Homo sapiens: one gene and its partners. Changing the gene in region 1 together with any one later gene gives a genetic interaction. Each region holds a gene or a part of one and is shown in the gene's direction. Other genes may lie near its edges. The genes, in order: MED9, MED1, METAP2, MED23, MED24 and MBTPS2.

The links.
Region 2: changes in MED9 (region 1) and MED1 together harm fitness more than expected from each alone (negative genetic interaction), as found in Homo sapiens cells (one large-scale study listed by BioGRID).
Region 3: changes in MED9 (region 1) and METAP2 together harm fitness more than expected from each alone (negative genetic interaction), as found in Homo sapiens cells (one large-scale study listed by BioGRID).
Region 4: changes in MED9 (region 1) and MED23 together harm fitness more than expected from each alone (negative genetic interaction), as found in Homo sapiens cells (one large-scale study listed by BioGRID).
Region 5: changes in MED9 (region 1) and MED24 together harm fitness more than expected from each alone (negative genetic interaction), as found in Homo sapiens cells (one large-scale study listed by BioGRID).
Region 6: changes in MED9 (region 1) and MBTPS2 together harm fitness more than expected from each alone (negative genetic interaction), as found in Homo sapiens cells (one large-scale study listed by BioGRID).

The regions. Positions count from the first base shown.
Region 1 is NC_000017.11:17,487,000-17,490,360, forward strand, and holds part of MED9 (mediator of RNA polymerase II transcription subunit 9), read left to right. Parts: intron 1-3,361.
Region 2 is NC_000017.11:39,409,764-39,413,263, reverse strand, and holds part of MED1 (mediator of RNA polymerase II transcription subunit 1), read left to right. Parts: intron 1-2,542; coding exon 2,543-3,500. UniProt on the Homo sapiens protein: Component of the Mediator complex, a coactivator involved in the regulated transcription of nearly all RNA polymerase II-dependent genes.
Region 3 is NC_000012.12:95,477,152-95,480,651, forward strand, and holds part of METAP2 (methionine aminopeptidase 2), read left to right. Parts: intron 1-3,500. UniProt on the Homo sapiens protein: Cotranslationally removes the N-terminal methionine from nascent proteins. The N-terminal methionine is often cleaved when the second residue in the primary sequence is small and uncharged (Met-Ala-, Cys, Gly, Pro, Ser, Thr, or Val).
Region 4 is NC_000006.12:131,618,243-131,621,742, reverse strand, and holds part of MED23 (mediator of RNA polymerase II transcription subunit 23), read left to right. Parts: intron 1-1,013; coding exon 1,014-1,115; intron 1,116-1,846; coding exon 1,847-1,916; intron 1,917-3,223; coding exon 3,224-3,336; intron 3,337-3,500. UniProt on the Homo sapiens protein: Required for transcriptional activation subsequent to the assembly of the pre-initiation complex. Component of the Mediator complex, a coactivator involved in the regulated transcription of nearly all RNA polymerase II-dependent genes.
Region 5 is NC_000017.11:40,030,409-40,033,908, reverse strand, and holds part of MED24 (mediator of RNA polymerase II transcription subunit 24), read left to right. Parts: intron 1-452; coding exon 453-564; intron 565-702; coding exon 703-853; intron 854-1,146; coding exon 1,147-1,260; intron 1,261-1,818; coding exon 1,819-1,866; intron 1,867-2,288; coding exon 2,289-2,371; intron 2,372-2,663; coding exon 2,664-2,750; intron 2,751-3,500. UniProt on the Homo sapiens protein: Component of the Mediator complex, a coactivator involved in the regulated transcription of nearly all RNA polymerase II-dependent genes.
Region 6 is NC_000023.11:21,853,117-21,856,616, forward strand, and holds part of MBTPS2 (membrane-bound transcription factor site-2 protease), read left to right. Parts: intron 1-259; coding exon 260-387; intron 388-2,870; exon of another isoform or gene 2,871-3,368; coding exon of another isoform or gene 3,369-3,500. Other genes in the region: transcription factor YY2, read left to right, coding at 3,369-3,500. UniProt on the Homo sapiens protein: Zinc metalloprotease that mediates intramembrane proteolysis of proteins such as ATF6, ATF6B, SREBF1/SREBP1 and SREBF2/SREBP2.

The DNA.
Region 1 (3,361 bases):
ACTCTGTATCTAGCTCAAGGTTTGTAAACACACCAATCAGCACCCTGTGTTTAGCTCAAGGTTTGTGAATGCACCAATCGACACTCTGTATCTAGCTGCTCTGGTGGGGCCTTGGAGAACCTGTGTGTCCAAACTGTATCTAACTAATCTGATGGGGACGGGGAGAACCTTTGTATCTAGCTCAGGGATTGTAAATGCACCAATCAGCGCCGTGACAAAACAGGCCACTCGGCTCTACCAATCAGCAGGATGTGGGTGGGGCCAGATAAGAGAATAAAAGCAGGCTGCCGGAGCCAGCAGTGGCAACCCGCTTGGGTCCCCTTCCATGCTGTGGAAGCTTTGTTCTTTCACTCTTTGCAATAAATCTTGCCACTGCTCACTCTTTGGGTCCACGCTGCTTTTATGAGCTGTAACACTCACCGCGAAGATCTGCAGCTTCACTCCTGAGCCCAGCGAGACCACGAGCCCACCGGGAGGAACGAACAACTCCAGACATGCTGCCTTAAGAGCTGTAACGCACACCGCGAAGGTCTGCAGCTTCCCTCCTGAGCCAGCGAGACCACGAACCCACCAGAAGGAAGAAACTCCGAACACATCTGAACATCAGAAGGGACAGACTTCAGACGCGCCACCTTAAGAGCTGTAACACTCACTGTGAGGGTCCGTGGCCTCATTCTTGAAGTCAGTGAGACCAAGAACCCACCAATTCCGGACACACAAGTACATAAGGGTATAAGTACAAGATGTTCACTGTCATTCTAGTACAGTACAACCACCCATGAATAGCCAGGGTAATTTCGCTGTCTAATTGTATATGTGTTAACATGGAAGGACATCTGAGGTGCCTTGTTAAGTAGAAAAAGCAAGAATGAGAACTATGGATGGTCACATTTCTGTCAGAACAAATAAGAAAAGTTTGTGTGTTTTGTATGCTGTTGTACATTTCAAAGCCATCTGAAACAGTGGACACCACATGTTAGCAGAGGTTATCTCTGGAACAAGGGGTTAATGAGATTTCCCTTTTCTAAGCCTTGGTTGTCTCATTTTTGAATTTTTTCCCTCAAGTACCTATTACTGTCATTTTTTAAAAAAGTGATCTTAGAAAAATGAAAGCCACTGGAGTTAGTACCGTGCGAGGAGAGCCTGTGGGCAGAGGAATGGACTGGTAAGGGCTGGTCTGAGGGCAAGGCAGCTGGGACAGAGTGGAGTGTGAGGCACAGTGCATGGAAGTTGTGAGGAAGAAGAAATGGGAAACTGAGTCAGATGCCACCAAAAGGTCAAAAGAAATGACTGTCAGATTTGGGAGGAAGTCTGTGTCAGTGGTTCTAGCAGAGTTATTGGCCAGTTTGCATCTGTACTAAAGCATCCATGCTAAAAAGAAGAACAAAGAAAATCAGGGCATGATTCTCAGACACCTGCCTAAAACCCTGTGATGTTTGCCTTTGAGTCTGGTGACACGGATACAACTGTCTGTCAGACGTGGGAAGGATGCTCAGAGGATCACCCCTGGCGGTAGTATTTTTGTCCACTCTTTAAAAAAACCATAGTAGGGGGCTGGGTGCGGTGGCTTACGCCTGTAATCCCAGCACTTTGGGAGGTTGAGGTGGGCGGATCACCTGAGGTCGGGAGTTCGAGACCAGCCTGGCCAACGTGGAGAAACACCATCTCTACTAAAAATACAAAATTAGCCGGGCGTGGTAGCGCATGCCTGTAATCCCAGCTACTCAGGAGGCCGAGGCAGGAGAATCACTTGAACCCGGGAGGCGGAGGTTGCAGTGAGCCAAGATCGCACCATTGCACTCCAGCCTGGGCAACGAGTAAAACTCTGTCTCAAAAAAAAAAAAGAAAAAAAGAAACCACAGTACCACAGTAGTTGGGACCAAAGTGCTCTGACCTTGCCTTGTTTGTACGATGTTCATCCTCCTTGACCTAGTGGCTTTTTTCATTCCTTCTATAGTTGGCCGATGACTAACCTTGAACACAAAGGTAGGCCCACTTAGAGCTTTCTGCTTTTATTCACTCGGTATTTGGTCCTGTCCCTTTTCTTTTGGCTTGAATATTTCACAGTCATCCTGGCTTAGCAGATGCCCACTTCTGAATAGCATGTTCTCTTCACTCCAGGAGTTCCATGCTATTTACCTCCACCAACTAGGGCAGTTGGGCTTGCAGAGGGGCCTCCCTGTGGGCTGCATGGCCCCTTTTGGCTCAGCTGCCCTCCAGGCGGCTTGTCTTACAGCTCCTTTTTTATTATCTGAAGACTGTCTCCTTTCCTGAAAGTTCACCAAAGAACACGCAACCCTTGCTATTTGGGGGTTTTCAGAGATGAGCATCTTAAACATGACCCACTTTCAACTTTCAGAACTAAATTTTCTTTTGGGCCAGGTTATGTTTGCTTCAAGAATGGGATTATCTGTCATCCACATTTCTATTTTAAGTACTTTTTTGTTTGTTTTACCATGTCCTTTGAGACTCATGTGAGTCGGTTTTTTTAAAAACTATATTTTAATTTTAAAACTTCCTTGGGACTTAAATTCGTAACGGTATGTTAACACGCATGCCATCCGAGTAGAAGGATTTCAGAAGTGCAGATGGTTTCTGTCCACATTTGTGGATCAGAGCTGAGACTTCAAAGAATTAAAATAAAAGACGTTCCCTATTTGCTTCCTTCCAAAGGATTTTTAGTTCTCATGAATACCAGTTCATCCTCTCTAGAATCTGCGATAAGGTATACTGTTAATGGTGTCTCTCAGTTGAGGGCATCATTTCCTGGCCTCTCATTTCCTGGAAGAAGTGATTGATTCTCCATACCCTCCCTCTGAGTTTAGAGCTGTTGGTAAATACTGAGCTGGCCATGGTGGCCATCTGATTTGCAAGGTGTGAGACGTAACTGATGGATCGCCAGGAAAGATGGATATTCTGCCTGCGTAAGCAGAGAAATGATGAATAGTAAACATGAATTAGCACCATCTGGGTTGAAATTTCCCACTACGGATGAACATTTATTTGAAAAAATTAATGATCATTGACAGTTTTTCCCTCTTATGCCTCAATGGCTTACTTTCAGAACAGCTTACTGAATTGCCTTTTAGTTTTGGTCTCAACCACTTGTTTTCAAAAGCTCATCCACTTACTAACTTTTAAAAAACGTATAGGAAGCTGAGTGTGGTGGCTCATGCCTGTAATCCCAGCACTTTGGGAGGCCGAGGCAGGTGGATCACCTGAGGTCAGGAGTTCAAGACCAGCCTGGCCAACATGGTGAAACCCTGTCTCTACTAAAAATACAAAAATTATCCGGGCGTGTTGGCATGCGCCTGTAATCCCAGCTACTCAGGAGGCTGAGGCAGGAGAATTGCTTGAACCG
Region 2 (3,500 bases), about 22 Mb from region 1:
TAAATAAATAAAAATATAAAAATTAGCCAGGTGTGGTGGCAGGTGCCTATAATCCCAGCTACTCAGGAGGCTGAGGCGGGAGAATTGCTTGAACCTGGGAGGCGGAGGCTGCAGTGAGCCGAGATTGTGCCACTCCACTCCAGCCTGGTAGACAGAGCAAGATGCCATCTCAAAACAAACAAAAAGCCAACTTAATTGTTACGTGATAGTTAAGCCAGTATGCATCCCAGAACCATTAATATGTAATTTTTTGAGATTTTTCTACAGCTGGGTCTGGCAGCCTATTTTTGTAAATAAATTTTATTGGAACACTGCTGTTCATTTACATGTCTGTGGCAGATTTCTAGTTAATATTGCAGAGTAGGTGAACAGGAAACAAGACCTACAAAGCCTAACGGATTACTATATGGCCTTATAAGAAAAATTTGCGGCCGGGTGCGGGGGTCACCCCTGTAATCCTAGCACTTTGGGAGGCTGAGGCGGGTAAATCACGAGGTCAGGAGTTCAAGACCAGCCTGGCCAAGATGGTGAAACCCCATCTCTACTAAAAATACAAAAATTAGCTGGGCGTGGTGGCGGGCTTCTGTAATCCCAGCTACTTGGGAGGCTGAGGCAGAGAATTGCTTGAACCTGGGAGGCGGAAGTTGCGGTAAGCCAAGATCATGCCACTGCACTCCAGCCTGGATAACAGAGCGAGACTCTGTCTCAAAGAAAAAAAAAAAAAAAAAAAGAAAAATTTGCTGGCTGGGTGTGGTGGCTCACGCCTATAATCCCAGCACTTTGGGAGGTGGGTGGATCGCCTGAGGTCAGGAGTTCGAGACCAGCCTGACTGACATGGAGAAACCCTGTCTCTACTAAAAATACAGAATTAGCTGGGCGTGATGGCGCATGGCTGTAATCCCAGCTACTCGAGAGGCTGAGGCAGGAGAATCACTTGAACCTGGGAGGTGGAGGTTGCAGTGAGCCAAGATCGCGCCATTGCACTCCAGCCTGGGCAACAAGAGCAAAACTCCGTCTCAAAAAAAAAAAAAAAAAGAAAAAAAAATTTGCTGACATATGTTCTAGAGCAAAACGTTTGCAAACTGAGGTTTATGAATATAAATTTATCTGGAAAATAAAAAGTGCTTTGCTTTAAAATAAACAAGATTTATAACAGAAATAGCACTTTTTATAATAGTGTAGGTTTGGGATGATCTAAGTCATTAAGGTTTAGTACTTAATGGGTCAAGAGATTTTTCTTTTCTTTTTTTTTTTTTTGAGATGGAGTCTTGTACTGTCACCTGGGCTGGAGTGCCATGGCACAATCTCAGCTCACTGCAACCTCTGCTTCCCGGGTTCAAGCAATTCTGCCTCAGCCTCCCAAGTAGTTGGGATTACAGGCACCTGCCACCATGCCCAGCTAATTTTTTGTATTTTTTCTTTTTTTTAGTAGAGATGGGGTTTCACTATGTTGGCCAGGCTGGTCTCAAAACTCCTGACCCTGTGATCCACCCGCCTCGGCCTCCCAAAGTGCTGGGATTACAGGCGTGAGCCACTCTGACCGGCGGAGATTTTTCTAATGGTTCCTTAATTAAAATAAATTATGTATCCCTGTAATTACCATATGAAGCCCCCCAGAGGACGACATTTTCTTTTTTCCTTTGAAATGAAGTCTTGCACTGTCACCAAGGCTGGCGTGCAATGGGACGATCTTGGCTCGCTGCGATCTCTGCCTCCTGGGTTCAAGTGATTCTCCTGTCTACCCTTCCTGAGTAGCTGGGATTACAGCTGTGCACCGCCACGGCTGGCTAATTTTTTGTATTTTTAGTAGAGACAGGGTTTCACCCCGCTGGCCAGGCTGGTCTCAAACTCCTGACCCGAAGTGATCCACCCTCCTCGGCCTTCCAAAGTGCTGGGATTGCAGGAGTGAGCCACCGCGCCCGACCTAAGGAGGCATTTTTTTTTTTGAGACGGAGTCTCACTCTGTTGCCAAGCTGGAGTGCAGTGGTGTGATCTCAGTGCAATGCAACCTCCGCCTCCCTTGTTCAAGCAATTCTCCTGCCTCAACCTCCCGAGTAGCTGGGATTACAGGCACGCGCCACCACGCCCAGCTAATTTTTGTATTTTTAGTAGAGACGGGGTTTCACCATGTTGGCCAGGATGGTGTCGATCTCCTGACCTCATGTTCCAGCCGCCTTGGCCTCCCAAAGTGCTGGGATTACAGGCGTGAGCCACTGTGCCCGGCCCCTAAGGAGGCATTTTCTTACTGAGTTCCATTATTACCAATTTTCTTTTAGTTAAGTTTGAAATTCAATTATTTGGACTCTTGTTTATAGTTTGCTTTTGTTGTGTGATTCATAAGAGGTTGACAATTTTATGTTGGGTTAGATTTTTAGAATGTATTTACCCAAAGCTCTGGTATTTGATAGAACTATTTTTGTCTTACAGATTATTTGCCCTACCTGAAAACTGCTTACTGCAAAACTCTGATGTTATATCTAAATCTCAGGTCTCATTCAGCAGCTATTGCAATGTTAACTTTGTTTTCTTCTTTATTTTGCAGATGTATGTCCATCCCTGTGACGATGAGGGCTATTCGGAGGAAAGCTGAAACCATTCAAGCCGACACCCCAGCACTGTCCCTCATTGCAGAGACAGTTGAAGACATGGTGAAAAAGAACCTGCCCCCGGCTAGCAGCCCAGGGTATGGCATGACCACAGGCAACAACCCAATGAGTGGTACCACTACACCAACCAACACCTTTCCGGGGGGTCCCATTACCACCTTGTTTAATATGAGCATGAGCATCAAAGATCGGCATGAGTCGGTGGGCCATGGGGAGGACTTCAGCAAGGTGTCTCAGAACCCAATTCTTACCAGTTTGTTGCAAATCACAGGGAACGGGGGGTCTACCATTGGCTCGAGTCCGACCCCTCCTCATCACACGCCGCCACCTGTCTCTTCGATGGCCGGCAACACCAAGAACCACCCGATGCTCATGAACCTTCTTAAAGATAATCCTGCCCAGGATTTCTCAACCCTTTATGGAAGCAGCCCTTTAGAAAGGCAGAACTCCTCTTCCGGCTCACCCCGCATGGAAATATGCTCGGGGAGCAACAAGACCAAGAAAAAGAAGTCATCAAGATTACCACCTGAGAAACCAAAGCACCAGACTGAAGATGACTTTCAGAGGGAGCTATTTTCAATGGATGTTGACTCACAGAACCCTATCTTTGATGTCAACATGACAGCTGACACGCTGGATACGCCACACATCACTCCAGCTCCAAGCCAGTGTAGCACTCCCCCAACAACTTACCCACAACCAGTACCTCACCCCCAACCCAGTATTCAAAGGATGGTCCGACTATCCAGTTCAGACAGCATTGGCCCAGATGTAACTGACATCCTTTCAGACATTGCAGAAGAAGCTTCTAAACTTCCCAGCACTAGTGATGATTGCCCAGCCATTGGCACCCCTCTTCGAGATTCTTCAAGCTCTGGGCATTCTCAGAGTACC
Region 3 (3,500 bases), on another chromosome or scaffold:
GGAGTGCAGTGGCGTGATCTCGGATCACTGCGACCTCCCGAGCTCAAGCAATTCTCCTGCCTCAGCCTCCCGAGTAGCTGGGATTACAGGCGCCTGCCACCATGCCCAACTAATTTTTTTGTATCTTTAGTAGAAATGGGGTTTTGCCAGGTTGGTCTTGAACTCCTGACCTCAAGTAATCTGCCCACCTCAGCCTCCCAAGGTGCTGGGATTACAGGTTTGAGCTACTGTGTCCGGCCTGTTCCTTTTACTCTCTATACCAAAATTAACTCTTTTCATTCTGAAAGAATCGTATAGGAGTGCACTAAGTTTTATTATAAATTCCTTGACCCTAGCTCCTTCTGGGTGTTTGGGTACAATAAGATTTTTTTAAAGACAGCAACTGCTAATTGATGTTATCAGTAAAACAGTGAAGGAAGAGACAGGTAAGAAAACTTAACTTTTTTCCAGCCTCTTTTGGCGGAGGAAAAATGGGGCTTTCCCATTCTTTTTATTTGTAGCTGCCTACTACTGAGAACATCTGCTCCCCCTCAAGCACCACCAGCCTGGGGTTAGGTCTTTAACCATTAGTTGGGGCTGTAATTATTGTGTTAGGGTAATGTAGAGTAGTTGTTTTCCTTTAGAGTGGTATGTTCTCTGCCTTCAAGAAGCTTATAGTGAACATTTGGTGGAAAAAAGTGCCAAGATTCAAGGGAATTACTAGCTTTTCCTCTTCCTTAAACCTCTGTTCTACATTGGCTTATGCTTTAGATTATGAACTTATTTTGAGCTCTTCACAAGAAAATGTTTTGTAAATTCAAGGCAATATAATAGATTGCTATAGACCCACTGTGTATATGGTATCATAATGCTTCCTGGGCCTGTCAGGCTAGTTAAAAAATATTGGCTGGGTGTGGTGGCTTATGCCTGTAATCCAGACAAGCCTGGGCAACATAGTGAGACCCTATGTCTATACCCGTCCACCTCCCCCCACCCCCCAAAAAAAATCACAGTGCTAATCTTGAAGTGTTATCTTGTTCTGTTACATCTCTACAAAGTTGCCCATCAGGTTGGAAATCTTCAATGTATTAAAGAAGATTTTAGGAATATTTGTAGTTATTTCAGTAATCAGAGTCAGTCAATACTACTTACCTGTTGTTAGGTCTTTGAGGGAATGGAAAGCTAGTGTTTCAAGATCTTTCTCCTAATGGAAAACTAGACCAGGTGTGTTAGCTCTCGCCTGTAATCCCAGCATTTTGGGAGGCTGAGGTGGGTGGATCACCTGAGGTCAGGAGTTCAAAACCAGCCTTACCAACATGGTGAAACCCCATCTCTACTAAAAATACAAAAAATTAGCCAGGTGTGGTGGTGGGTGCCTGTAATCCCAGCTACTCGGGAGGCTGAGGCAGGAAAATTGCTTGAACCCAGGAGGTGGAGGTTGCTGTCAGTGGAGGTTGCGCCATTGCACTTTAGCCTGGGCAACAAAAGTGAAACTCTGTCTCAAAAAATAAGAAAAAATAAAGAAAACTAAGGATGTGGTAGACAGACAAAACCTAGAAGTGAAAAGGTATTTGGGTACCTGTAATAAAATTTATTGAAATTTGGTGGTATAAGTGTGGGCTGAATGCCGAAGGAAGGCTCATTGGAAGGAATAGAACTTGAGTAAAACCAAACAAAGGAACTATTTTGGGTTGGGGTAATGCTGAGAAAACATTTGAAGCATTGTGGTAATACAAGCTTGCCATATGAGGTGATAGATTGAGGGAGCCTTAGAGGATTTTTAAGAAATGTTATGAGCCAAGCACAGTGGCTGGTGCCTGTAATCCCAGCTACTTGGGAGGCTGGGATGGGAGGATCTTTGAGTCCAGGGGGCTTCAGTATGCTACGAAAACACCTGTGACTGGCCACTGCACTCCAACCTGGGTAACATAGTAAGACCCTGTCTCTTAACAAAAAAGGAATGTTATGAAATAATAATTTAGGCTTTACCTGTATACAGGGTTGTTTAGAGGAGAGGAAGTGTGTAGGAAAGGCAAGGAGGAGATCATTTTGGAGGCCTCTTAGAAATAGCCCAGGCATATGGTAATGAAGATGTAAACTGATAGTCATAAATAGGCATGGAGAGGAAGGATCCAGTGAACAGTAGTGTGGAAGCAGAATTCAAAAGACTTGGAGACTTGCATTCTGGGAGCAGGAGTAAGGCATTAGTGGACTCTGGGAGTTTGCACTTGGGTGACAGAATGTTGGTGCTGTTGACTGAAATAGTGAAGTTGGGAAAGAGCCAGTTAGACATTGGGGGAGAGGTTTGCAGGCAAAGAAGAGGGTACTAAGTTTAATTTTAGATGTGCTGAATTGGAAACTGTGGTATTGGTATAAAAAGTTGATCCTGTGGTCATCTGACAGTGTGCTGGAGGTAATTCATTCAATACATTTTGAGTCAGGCTCATTAACATATAATTTCCCTAAAATAATAGTCACCACTCTTTTTTTTTTTTTTTGAGACGGAGTCTCACTCTTGTCCAGGCTGCAGTGCAGTGGCACGATCTCAGCTCACTGCAACCTCTGCCTTCCGGGTTCCAGCGATTCTCCTGCCTCAGCCTCCTGAGTGGCTGGGATTACAGGTGCCCGCCACCACTCCCAGCTAATTTTTGTATTTTTAGTAGAGACAGGGTTTCACCATGTTGGCCAGGCTGGTCTCGAACTCCTGGCCTCAAGTGATCCGCCCGCCTCAGCCTCCCAAAGTGCTGGGATTACAGGCGTGAGCCACCATACCTGGCCCCAATAGTCATCCTTTTTAAGTGTATAGTTTGGTGAGTTTTGACAAAGTATGCAATTGTGTAACTACTACCACGACGGAAGATACAGACTATTTCCATTTAACATTTCCATCTCCAGAAAAAAGTTGTGTCTCTTGTAGTTGGTTCTCTTGCACTATACCTAACCCTTAGCAATCACTGATACGTTTTCTGACCCTAGTTTTGGCCTTTCCTGGAGTATCCTATAAATGGAATTATTCGGTATGTAGTTTTTTGTGTTTGGCTTGTTTTACTTAGCATAATACTTTTGACAGTCATCGAGTTGTGCATTTATCAATAGCACATTCCTTTTTATTGCAAGTAGTATTCCTAATATGTTTTACCCTTTTACATTGAACAATATTTGGGGTGTTTACAGTTTTGGTCTGTTGTGAACGAAGTTACTATGAACATTTGCATATGGGTCTATGTGTAGATATGTTTTCATTTCTCTTGAGTAAATAGGACTGGGTTGCCTGTCATATGGTAAGTATGTGTTTAAACTCCTAAGAAGCTGTCTGGTTTCCAAAGTGGCTATGCTGTTTTGCATTCCTCTTAGCAATGGTTGAGAGTTTCAGGTTGTTCGTATCCTTGTAAGGACTTGGTATTTGTTTTAAAATTTTAGTCTTTGATAATGGGTATGTAGTGCTTTGTCATTGTGGTTTTAATATGCACTTCCCTAATGATATTGAGCATCTTTTCATGTTTTTATTTGCTTTTTCCTTT
Region 4 (3,500 bases), on another chromosome or scaffold:
AGATGCTAGTTCCCTTATATTTCAAAAGGACATTTTAAATTTTAATTCATGGTTTTAAATTATGAAAACAATGAAATAGAAATTAAAATAGCTTAAACATTACAAGACCTTAGCATATGGACCACTTAAAAGATCTTTGTACTTTGTAACTAGTATCGCAAGAATTGTTACGTTGGTCTGTTGCACTCCTGTTTAAGTGTGCCAATATTTAAAGCATGTGCAAGGTTATTTACTAACCATGAACAATCCATTCCATTGTTTATTAATCTTTATTTTTAGATATTTTTTACATATAAATGTATTCTTTGCTACAGTTGAAACCCAATAAATCCATTAAATAATATCTCTATATTTTATTTTAATTGACAAGTAGCAATTGTCTGTGTGTGTGTATATATATTATATATACTTATTTTTTTATAATGATAACACTTAAAATCTACTCTCTTAGCAATTTTGAAGTATACACTATATCGTTATTAACCATAGTCACCATAATGTCCAGTAGGTCTCTTGAACTTATTCCTCTTGTCAAAGTGAAATTTTGTCCTTTGACCAACATCTCTCCAGAAAGTAACATCTCTACTTTTTAATGTCTTTTTTGTTGTCATTGTCATTGTAGTGTTTAAAACGCTCACATGGGCCAGATGCAGTGGCGCATGTCTGTAATCCCAGTGCTTTGGGAGGCCAAGGCGGGAGGCTCATTTAAGCCCATTGTTAGAGACCAGCCAGGACATCCTGGGGAGACCCTGTCTTTACAAAAAATTAAAAAGTTAGCCGGGCCTGCTGGCATACACCTATAGTCCCAGCTACTCTGGAGGCTGAGGTGGGAACACCACTGGAGCCCCAGAGGTTGAAGATGTAGTGAGCCATGATTACGCCACTGCACTCCAAGCCTGGGCAACAGAGCAAGACCCTGTCTCAAAAAAAAAAAAAAATAATGATAATAAATAAAATAAAGGGCTTATATGTGGGACTAGTCAAGAATGATGTGGCCTTTTTGTTTTTCTTAGGTTATAGCATATATCTTGGAAAGAAATGCCTGCTTATTACCAGCCTATTTTGCAGTCACTGAGATCAGGAAACTGTATCCTGAAGGCAAACTTCCACACTGGGTAAATTTTATATTTCCTGAATTTTTAATAAAAATTTTCGGCTGGGCTTCGTGGCTCACAGCACTTTGGGAGGCAAAGGTGGGAAGATGATTTGAGGACAAGAGTTCAAGACCCAACCTGGGTAACATAACAAGACTCTGTCTCTGCAAAACATTAAAAAACACACGCACACATATTAGCCAGGCATAGTAGCACATGCCTATAGCCCCAGCTACTCAGGAGCTGAGGTGGGAGGATTACTTGAAACCAGGAGTTTGAGGCTGCAGTGAGCTGTGATCACACCACTGTACTCTAGCTTCGGCAAAAGGACGAGACCCTGTCTCACACACAAAAAAGGGTATTTTATAAAAAACAGTTATATTAATCTTATTTTTGTGTGCTTATTTTTTTAATGATGACTTTTATCCTTAGATAATATGTATATTTTTAATCATGATGTATTTCTTTCATTTCCATTTCCATTGAGAATTTATATGCCATGTAATAAAATATGATCAGCTTCATCAAATAGCTAAGGATATGGTGGTGTGACTTGGTTTAATTAAGGGACAGATGAACTGGCGAGTGATTTTTTAGAAGGAAGCAAAAGGGAGCTAACCTTTAAACAGTTATCATGTGCAATCTTTACATATATTATCTCATTTTATATAAATGTTCATATATTTCAGGGGCAGTCTCAATTTTCCTTTTGTACGTATTTATTTGACTTCCCTCTTTCTTTCTCTCTTTAGTTACTTGGAAACCTAGTATCAGACTTTGTGGATACCTTCAGGCCCACAGCAAGGATAAACTCCATTTGTGGTAGGATTATAATTTTAAATATGCCAAATAGTACCTGATTTTTAGTAATCTAATTATTGAACAAAGCTGAGGGATGTTCTCTTAATATGTGCCTTGGTGGCTTGTCATTTTGGTGACTCTCTAAGAGCTTAATATAATGCCTTTCCCTTGTTTTCACTTACTCTGTGTGCCAAGTACAGGGAGGAAAAAGAAACTCTCTGGAATGGGTTTAAGCTTCATTTAAAACCATTCTAGAAGTGGGTTTCTTGGTGATTAGAAAGACATTTTAATACAGCTAGTAAAGCACCATGGAATTTCTAGGCAGCTGGAAGTCTGAACAGACCTGTCCCTCTGTGGCTACAGAACGTGAAAGTGTCAGGCTCACTCAGCCCATTCTAATTCCCACTTTTGCTTTTCCTTTCGCATTTTCCCATGTTTTGTTAGAGTCTCTGAACTTTCTTTTAAAAATAACCATGTGATTTGGCAATTTTTGCAGTGCCCACATATCCTCTTTAATTATTTCTAGAAATCATGGTGACCTCAACTGTGTGGAAATATAGACCATTGTTTATTCAGTGATCAAATATTGAGTACTTCCTATAAGCCAGGTGCTATTCTAGATACTGAAAATACAAATACAATCTAAATAGACACTAGACAGATAATTATCAGGTTTCTAGCTTTTGTAACTGAGTGGATATTGATATCATGTAGTGAATTATGGAAGCAAAGTAGGTTGGAGAAGGATGATGAATTTGAGACATGTTAAGCTTGAGGTGCTTGTAGGACATCCAAGTGACGATATTTGTTAGGCAGTTGGATGTATGAGCTGATAGTCATATGTGACATCTAAGGCCTCTAGGAATATCGTGCATAAAGTTTAATCATGTTGACACTGGACTAGTGGTCTTAAACTTTTTCCTGTAAAGGGCCATGTAGTAAATATTTTAAGCTTCGTAGGCTACAGAATCTGTTGCAGCTACTCAGCTCTGCCATTGGACTGCAAAAGCAGTGGTGTTCCAATAAAACTTTACAAAAACAGGTGCCAGGCTGGATTTGGCCCATGGATTATAGTTGGCTGATCTCTGCCCTAGACATTTAGACAAAATGCGATATTTTCAACTTTGGAAAGCCTGTGCAAATTGATCTTCAACTATCTGAACTAAAAATAAAATTCCCAACCTTCAGTCTCATTGAAACATTTTTATAAGCCATTTTTAAACCAAACCAATGCCTATTTCAGCATATATGTTCATTAAATATTTGTGAAGTGAATGAAGTACTGCTGTGTTCACATTTACTTAAAAACATTTTTGTAATACATACAGGTCGCTGTAGTCTTCTGCCAGTTGTAAATAATTCGGGTGCCATTTGTAATTCATGGAAACTGGATCCTGCTACTCTTCGTTTTCCTTTGAAAGGCCTTTTGCCATATGATAAGGTATGTTGCTAAATATAATGGCACTTTTAGTCCATCTGACAGTCTTCAACCTAGATTATAAGATATGTGATGCTAAATTGTTGCTTCATAATCTGAAGAAGTAAATATTTAATGAAAGATAGTTTATAGTTTATCATGTTATTCTAGTATCTAAATATACCCTG
Region 5 (3,500 bases), about 23 Mb from region 1:
TAGATGAGGGAGTGGTTGAGAATGAGAAAGCCATTTAGGGACCCAGTTCCCCCAGAGGAGAGTGACAGCCTCTGCAAGACTGGACTTTGGGATCCGCTCACTCCTCGAGTGATTTGTGGCCGCCCTCCCTGTTCCAGCCACTGGATTCTGGCCTCCCTCTGCCTCTCTCTCCTGAGCCTGTGTGATGCCATACCTTCTGAAGTCAGCTGGCTGTGTCCCCTGGAAATCAGGCTTTTGGGAATGGTCTCTGGGGTTTCCAGCTCTAGGTGCCCACCCCCCTTCTGGAAACAGTGCATGCTGCCCTCAGGCCCCTCCCTCCCTGTTGTCCTCAGGGGAAGCCTTCCTGTGTGGTTTCGTGTGCCGGAGGGAGTGCCAAAATCGAGGAGTTCAGGGCCAGGTGCTCCTTCTCTCCTGTTTCCCATCATGTTTCTGTACTTCCTTCCCTCTGCCAGCTTCTTGGACTGCCATCGAGCATTCTCTCTTGAAACTTGGAGAGATCCTGGCCAATCTCAGCAACCCGCAGCTCCGGAGTCAGGCCGAGCAGTGTGGCACCCTCATTAGGAGGTACCGGCTCCCTGGGGGATGGTGGAGAAGGGAGAGGGAGGACACGCCCTGGGGTAGGAAGATGTGGCACCCGTGCCATCCTCTCCGCCTTCACCTTTGGCCCCCCAAACACCGTCCCCTGTGTTTGTGACCCCTCAGCATCCCCACGATGCTGTCTGTGCATGCGGAGCAGATGCACAAGACCGGCTTCCCCACTGTCCACGCCGTGATCCTGCTCGAGGGCACCATGAACCTGACAGGCGAGACGCAGTCCCTGGTGGAGCAGCTGACGATGGTGAAGCGCATGCAGGTGGGAGGGGCCGAGTGGCTCTCCCTTCTCCAAGGCAGGCCAGCCTGTTGGGGGCAGGAGGGAGGATTCTTCTGGTTCTCCCTGGGAGAAGTGGGGTTTCTCCTGCTCCATGATGGAAAGTGGGTGCCAGTCGTGCACACTTCTGTCATTGGACCTTACTCCCCTGGTTCTCAGCACATAGCTGAGCAGTGACTCTGCCATGCAGTCTCTGACCCAGCCAAATCCTCAGAGTCCACAGAAGGGTGACGGGGTATGGGCACCCTCTTAGGCCTCATCCTTGGCTCTTCCCACAGCATATCCCCACCCCACTTTTTGTCCTGGAGATCTGGAAAGCTTGCTTCGTGGGGCTCATTGAGTCTCCCGAGGGTACGGAGGAGCTCAAGTGGACAGCTTTCACTTTCCTCAAGGTACTGGGGACGTGGGAGGGGCAGAGCCAGTCTAGGAATGGTTCTTAGCAAGACCAGTGGCACCCTGGACCTTTGCCCTGTGTTCCTCCCTGCGGGCACTGGGCCCAGCCTGCCAGGTATTCCAGTGCAAGTTCCCATTGATCATTTTCTCTGAAAGTGCCAGGGCTATATTTAGCCCATTTGGCAGACTCCGTTGTTTCTTACCACAGAGGTGCAGTTTAGCTTGGTCATCAGACAGATAGGTGCAGGGCAGTAAAGGGAGCCAGGGAAAGGGGCCCCAGTCCTCCTTGAAGCTGGGGATCCACTTTTGCTTATGGCATCTTTTTCTGTTGAGCTAGCGGAGGTGCAGGGTGCTTGTGTCCTGTGCCTAGGCCTGGGGGCATCAGGGGCCTGGGCACCTATTGGCTTTCTCATTTAGCACTAAGTGTGCTCTCACTCCCAGGGTAGGAGTGTTCCTGTCTCTCTTCCTGGAGCAGGGGTTCGGGGGGATGCCTTCAGGGGTAGATGAAAGAGAAAAGAAATGGATCTTCCTGTTTTTCCCCCTGCCTCACCCCCTAGATTCCACAGGTTTTGGTGAAGTTGAAGAAGTACTCTCATGGAGACAAGGTGAGTTGGGGATTGAGATGGAGGCATGGGAGCAGAAATAAGGGCAAAGGGGAGGGTCCTTCAGGCCCCAGCTGGGCAGTGTTCTCATGCCTGGAAGAGAGCCGGATGTGAGTGTACACCTCAGCGTGCACGTGCTTCACAATGTGCATGCTTCAGCATGTGCGTGTGCTTCAGCATGTGCGTGTGCTTCAGTGTGTGCGTGCTTCAGTGTGTGTGTTTCAGCGTGTGTGTGCTTCAGCGTGTACGTGTGCTTCAGCCAGTGTGTGTGCTTCAGCGTCTGCGTGCACCCACAACATACACCCAGGCTCCAGGCAGAAAGCAGCCAGGCAACTCAGGCCGATGCCTCCAGCAGACAAGGTTGCCTGAGATGATCAGGGCCTGGTGGCCCTGGAAACCAGATGGACACTTCTGCCTCTTTCTAGGACTTCACTGAGGATGTCAACTGTGCTTTTGAGTTCCTGCTGAAGCTCACCCCCTTGTTGGACAAAGCTGACCAGCGCTGCAAGTATGAGCTCCCCTGGTCACCCCCGCCCTACTGGAAGGCGTTCTGGGCTCTTCCCCTGATCTCTGTGCCAGAGAAGCCTCAGGGGACTCTGTCTCCTTGTTCACTCCCCTTGGCAGGGGCAGGAAATAGGAGCCCACAGTTGCCAAGTCCCCAGAGCCCCTCTACCGTCCCTCAGGCACTCCAGATTTTCCTCATCCTGAAAGAGGGAGGATGCTGCTCAGGGACCTGCCACTCCCACCCCTCACCATCCTATCCAGGTGCCCAGTTCCCTCAGCATCTTTCTCCCTCACAGCTGTGACTGTACAAACTTCCTGCTCCAAGAATGTGGCAAGCAGGGGCTTCTGTCTGAGGCCAGCGTCAACAACCTTATGGCTAAGCGGTAAGTGTGAACGCACCTGTGCTACCCCAAGAGCCCCTTGACCTCTCTCTTGTTACGGTGGGGCTGCTGCGTGCCTTTCAACCTCCTGTCGAAAGTTTGGGCTGCAAGTGACTGGGACCGTGCCTGGGGGTACAGGGAACAGGAAGGAAAAGAAAGCACAGATGTCTTCAGACCAGAGTTTTACACTCTTAGTCACTGCTCTTTAACTCATACCCATCTTTGTGATAAAAGTAAAAATCCTAGGCTGGAGGCGGGTGGATTACTTGGAGGCCAGGAGTTCAAGACCAGCCTGCCCAACATGGCAAAACCCCATGTCTACTAAAAATACAAAAATCAGCTGGGCGTGGTGGTGTGTGCCTGTAATCTCAGCTACTCTGGAGGCTGAGGCACGAGAATTGCTTGAACCCAGGAGGCGGAGATTGTGGTGAGGCGAAATCATGCCACTGCACCCCAGCCTGGGCGATAGAGTGAGACCTTGTCTCAAAAAAAAAATAAATAAATAAATAAAAATCCTGAATCTTCCTTTAATCTTAAATGTGCTTTCAGAGCATTTAAGACTAATGATAGGCCGGCTGCGGTGGCTCACACCTGTAATCCCAGCATTTGGGAGGCCAAGGCGGGTGGATCACGAGGTCAGGAGTTTGAGACCAGCCTGGCCAACGTGGTGAAACCCCATCTCTACTAAAAATACAAAAATTAATCAGGCGCGATGGTATGCACCTGTAATTCCAGCTACTCAGGAGGCTGAGG
Region 6 (3,500 bases), on another chromosome or scaffold:
TTCTAAAAATTTTGAAGTTATGTCTATTTCAGTATGCCCTATTTTGCAAAATTCAATTTCACAGATAACCAAATCTGTACATTATTATAAAATTAAGATTATATATAGTATAGATATAATTTTTTTGGCTGTTCAGAGAGACTTTCTGTTTTTTAAGCAAGAATTCAAATTACAGTGAAAAGTTTTAAGATTATGTACACTATTAATTTGATAAATATAATAGTATTAGTAAACTCCTTTTTCTTATGTGATTTCTTAGGGAACAAGTTCGATTTAATGGCTTTGGGATTTTTCTCTTCATTATTTATCCTGGAGCATTTGTTGATCTGTTCACCACTCATTTGCAACTTATATCGCCAGTCCAGCAGCTAAGGATATTTTGTGCAGGTAACAGACTTAATTTTGTTTTAATATTCATCTGTGGTTTTGGTTTTGATTTTCTATGGTTAGTGCTTTTTGGAAAATATATCACAAATGACAATATCTTATCTTTTGGTTAATAACTTCAGTTTATAAGACCCCTTCAAAAGTAGAGGAGTAAAATAATTTACATTCCAGTTGCTTCCTTAAAACCAACTAAAAACAACATAATTTTAAAAAATTTAAAAACAGAGGAAAACTTTGTTTTGTCCACAACATGAAATCACAAACTATGAAGAATGTCAACTCAGCTGAAATAGAATGAAATTTGCATCAAATCAAGGGAGAATATGAAGAATTGACTAAGAGATAAATCAAAAGTATCCAGGAATGGAAAAAAAGGGTTATGAAAGGATGAGTAGTGAACTCTAGCACTGTCAGAGTTCAATCAGAGAAACAGAATCCCTTGGAGATGGAACCACAGTTCCAGCTGAGTGAAACTGACATACGACAAATCCATCACAACCCTGCATCACTTTTAATGGAATAACTGAGGCTAAGCAAGTGTGGAGTTAGAATTCTCAAACTAACAACGACAACAACAACAAAAAAAACCTGAAGGTGGGAAAAACAAAAACGGGAAATATAAATACTAATTTCCTCAACTTCATAGTGGAGAGGACATCTGCCTGAACCTGATAAATCAAGAAATAGAGGCTTGAGTATATCACTTAAGATTATAAATGTAAATACTACAAGATCTAAAAACACACATAAACTTTTCAAGTTATCACAGTGAAAGCATGAAACACAGACCAAAGAAAACAGACCCTATATCAAAAGATAAACCATGGTAATGAATTTAAGACCAAAACACATTTATTTTGTCAATAAACATAAATGAAATAAGCTCACCTACTGAAAGAAAGATGCCCTTAGTTTGTATTTAAAACATGTCCCAAATATGTGATGTACAAAATAAATCTGTGTAAATAATTACTCAAAAATAATGAAAGTAAAATGATGAGCAGAACATAACATGCAAATGGGAACAGAAAATAAGACCAAAAGCATTATATTAGACATTGGGGGCCATTTAACAATAATAAGGAATATAAGCCACAATGAAAATATAACAGTTGTGAATCTTACTGTATCAAGTAACAAACCATCAAAGCAAAACAAAAATGGGAAAAGTATAAGAAGAAACAGGTAATAAAAAGACTCACGCTTTAATACATGGCAGATAAGTATAAAAAAGTTAGGCTAAGGTAAAAATAGGTATGTCAAACTCTATACCGTGAACACAGAAGACAATATTTTTTCAAGTGCCCATGGGACTTAAAGTCACAGTAAATTCCCAAGAGAAGACTAGCAAACTAAGTAAAAACTACCTGAAATTTAGAAATTTATCTTAATCACACCTTGGATCAATTTAATTCAAACCTGTGATTTCAGTAGATCTAAAAATTATGATGATGAAATCATTTTACTGAGATAATGTTTAAAGTTTTGCTAAAAGAAAAATGCACTGCCTTAGGCAGTCATGCAAATACAAATGGAAATAGATTAGTTGAGTATTAAACTTAAGTGAGAAAAGAACTGTAAAATAATTAAGAAATGATGACGTAATTAGTAAGGATATAGGCAGAAAATAATAAATTAGAAAAAACAAAACTAGATCTGCTAAATCCAAGAGCTCTTAAAAAAAAATCAAAGGTCGAACAATGAGAAAAAGCATCTAAAGACAATTAGCAATCAGATTGGGGAATGACAATTGATAACAGAGAAAATAAAAACAATTATAAGTGTTGTTTGCTCATCTCCACAAAAAAAATTTCAAAACCCTGTATAAATATAAGAAAATAAAAATAGCTGAAATTAACCCAAGAGGCAATCAAAAAAATCTAAATAGGCAAATAATTACAATGGGAGAAATTAAGAAAGTTGATAAAGAACGCCCTTTTTCTTTTGAGATGGAGTCTCGCTGTGTTGCCCAGGCTGTAGTGCAGCGGCATGATCTAGGCTCACTGCAACCTCTGCCTCCCAGGTTGAAGCGATTCTCCTGCCTCAGCCTCCCGAGTAGCTAGGATTACAGGCACGAGCCACCACGCCCAGCTAATTTTTGTATTTTTAGTAGAGAAGGGGTTTTGCCATGTTGGCTAGGCTGGTCTCAAACTCCTGACCTCAAGTGACCCTCCTGCCTCGGCCTCCCAAAGTGCTGGGATTACAGGTGTGGGATTGCTGTGCCCGGCCCAGCTACTCTGGAGGCTGAAGCAGGAGAATCACTCGAACCCAGGAGGCGGAGGTTGCAGTGAGCCGAGATCGCGCGCCACTGCACTCCAGCCTGGGCGACGGAGCGAGACTCCGTCTCAAAAAAAAAAAAAAATCCTTAGTAAAAGTAGGAATAGCTGCATACATCATAATAGCACAACACTTTGCATTCCTATTAAAGGACAAGACAAATTCTACTATCAACTATTACTGATATTAAATGTCGTATTAGTGCAATTAAATAAGAGAAAAAAGCATAAAAGGAGTAGGCTTTTTTGGCAGATACTGTTATATGGGATGGACAGGAGGGGAAGACATGAAAATCAACTAAAATGAAATACATAAAAAATCAGTAAAGAGCCTGCTTACGAAAGTGGAAAAACAACAGCTGGGCGGGGTCGCAGGGTGGCAAACGTACGCGGGCACGTGCACGTGCTTTTGGGGCCGACAGACGCGCCAGTTGCCTAGGCGCATGCGTCTGGCTATCCCAGAAGCACCTGCGCCTTCCGGCTCGTGCTTTCCTCAGTCTCGCGCCTTTCTCTGCAGCTCGCGCCTTTCTCTGCAGCTCGCGCCTTTCTCTGCAGCTCGCGCCTTTCTCTGCAGCTCGCGCCTTTCTCTGCAGCTCGCCCCTTCCTCTGCAGCTCGCCCCTTCCTCTGCAGCTCCCACCTCACTCCCCTCAGCGTTCTTTTTCCCACGGTCTTCCCGTTGCCGCTAACCTAACTAACTCTCAGCCATGGCCTCCAACGAAGATTTCTCCATCACACAAGACCTGGAGATCCCGGCAGATATTGTGGAGCTCCACGACATCAATGTGGAGCCCCTTCCTATGGAGGACATTCCGACGGAAAGCGTCCAGTACGAGGAT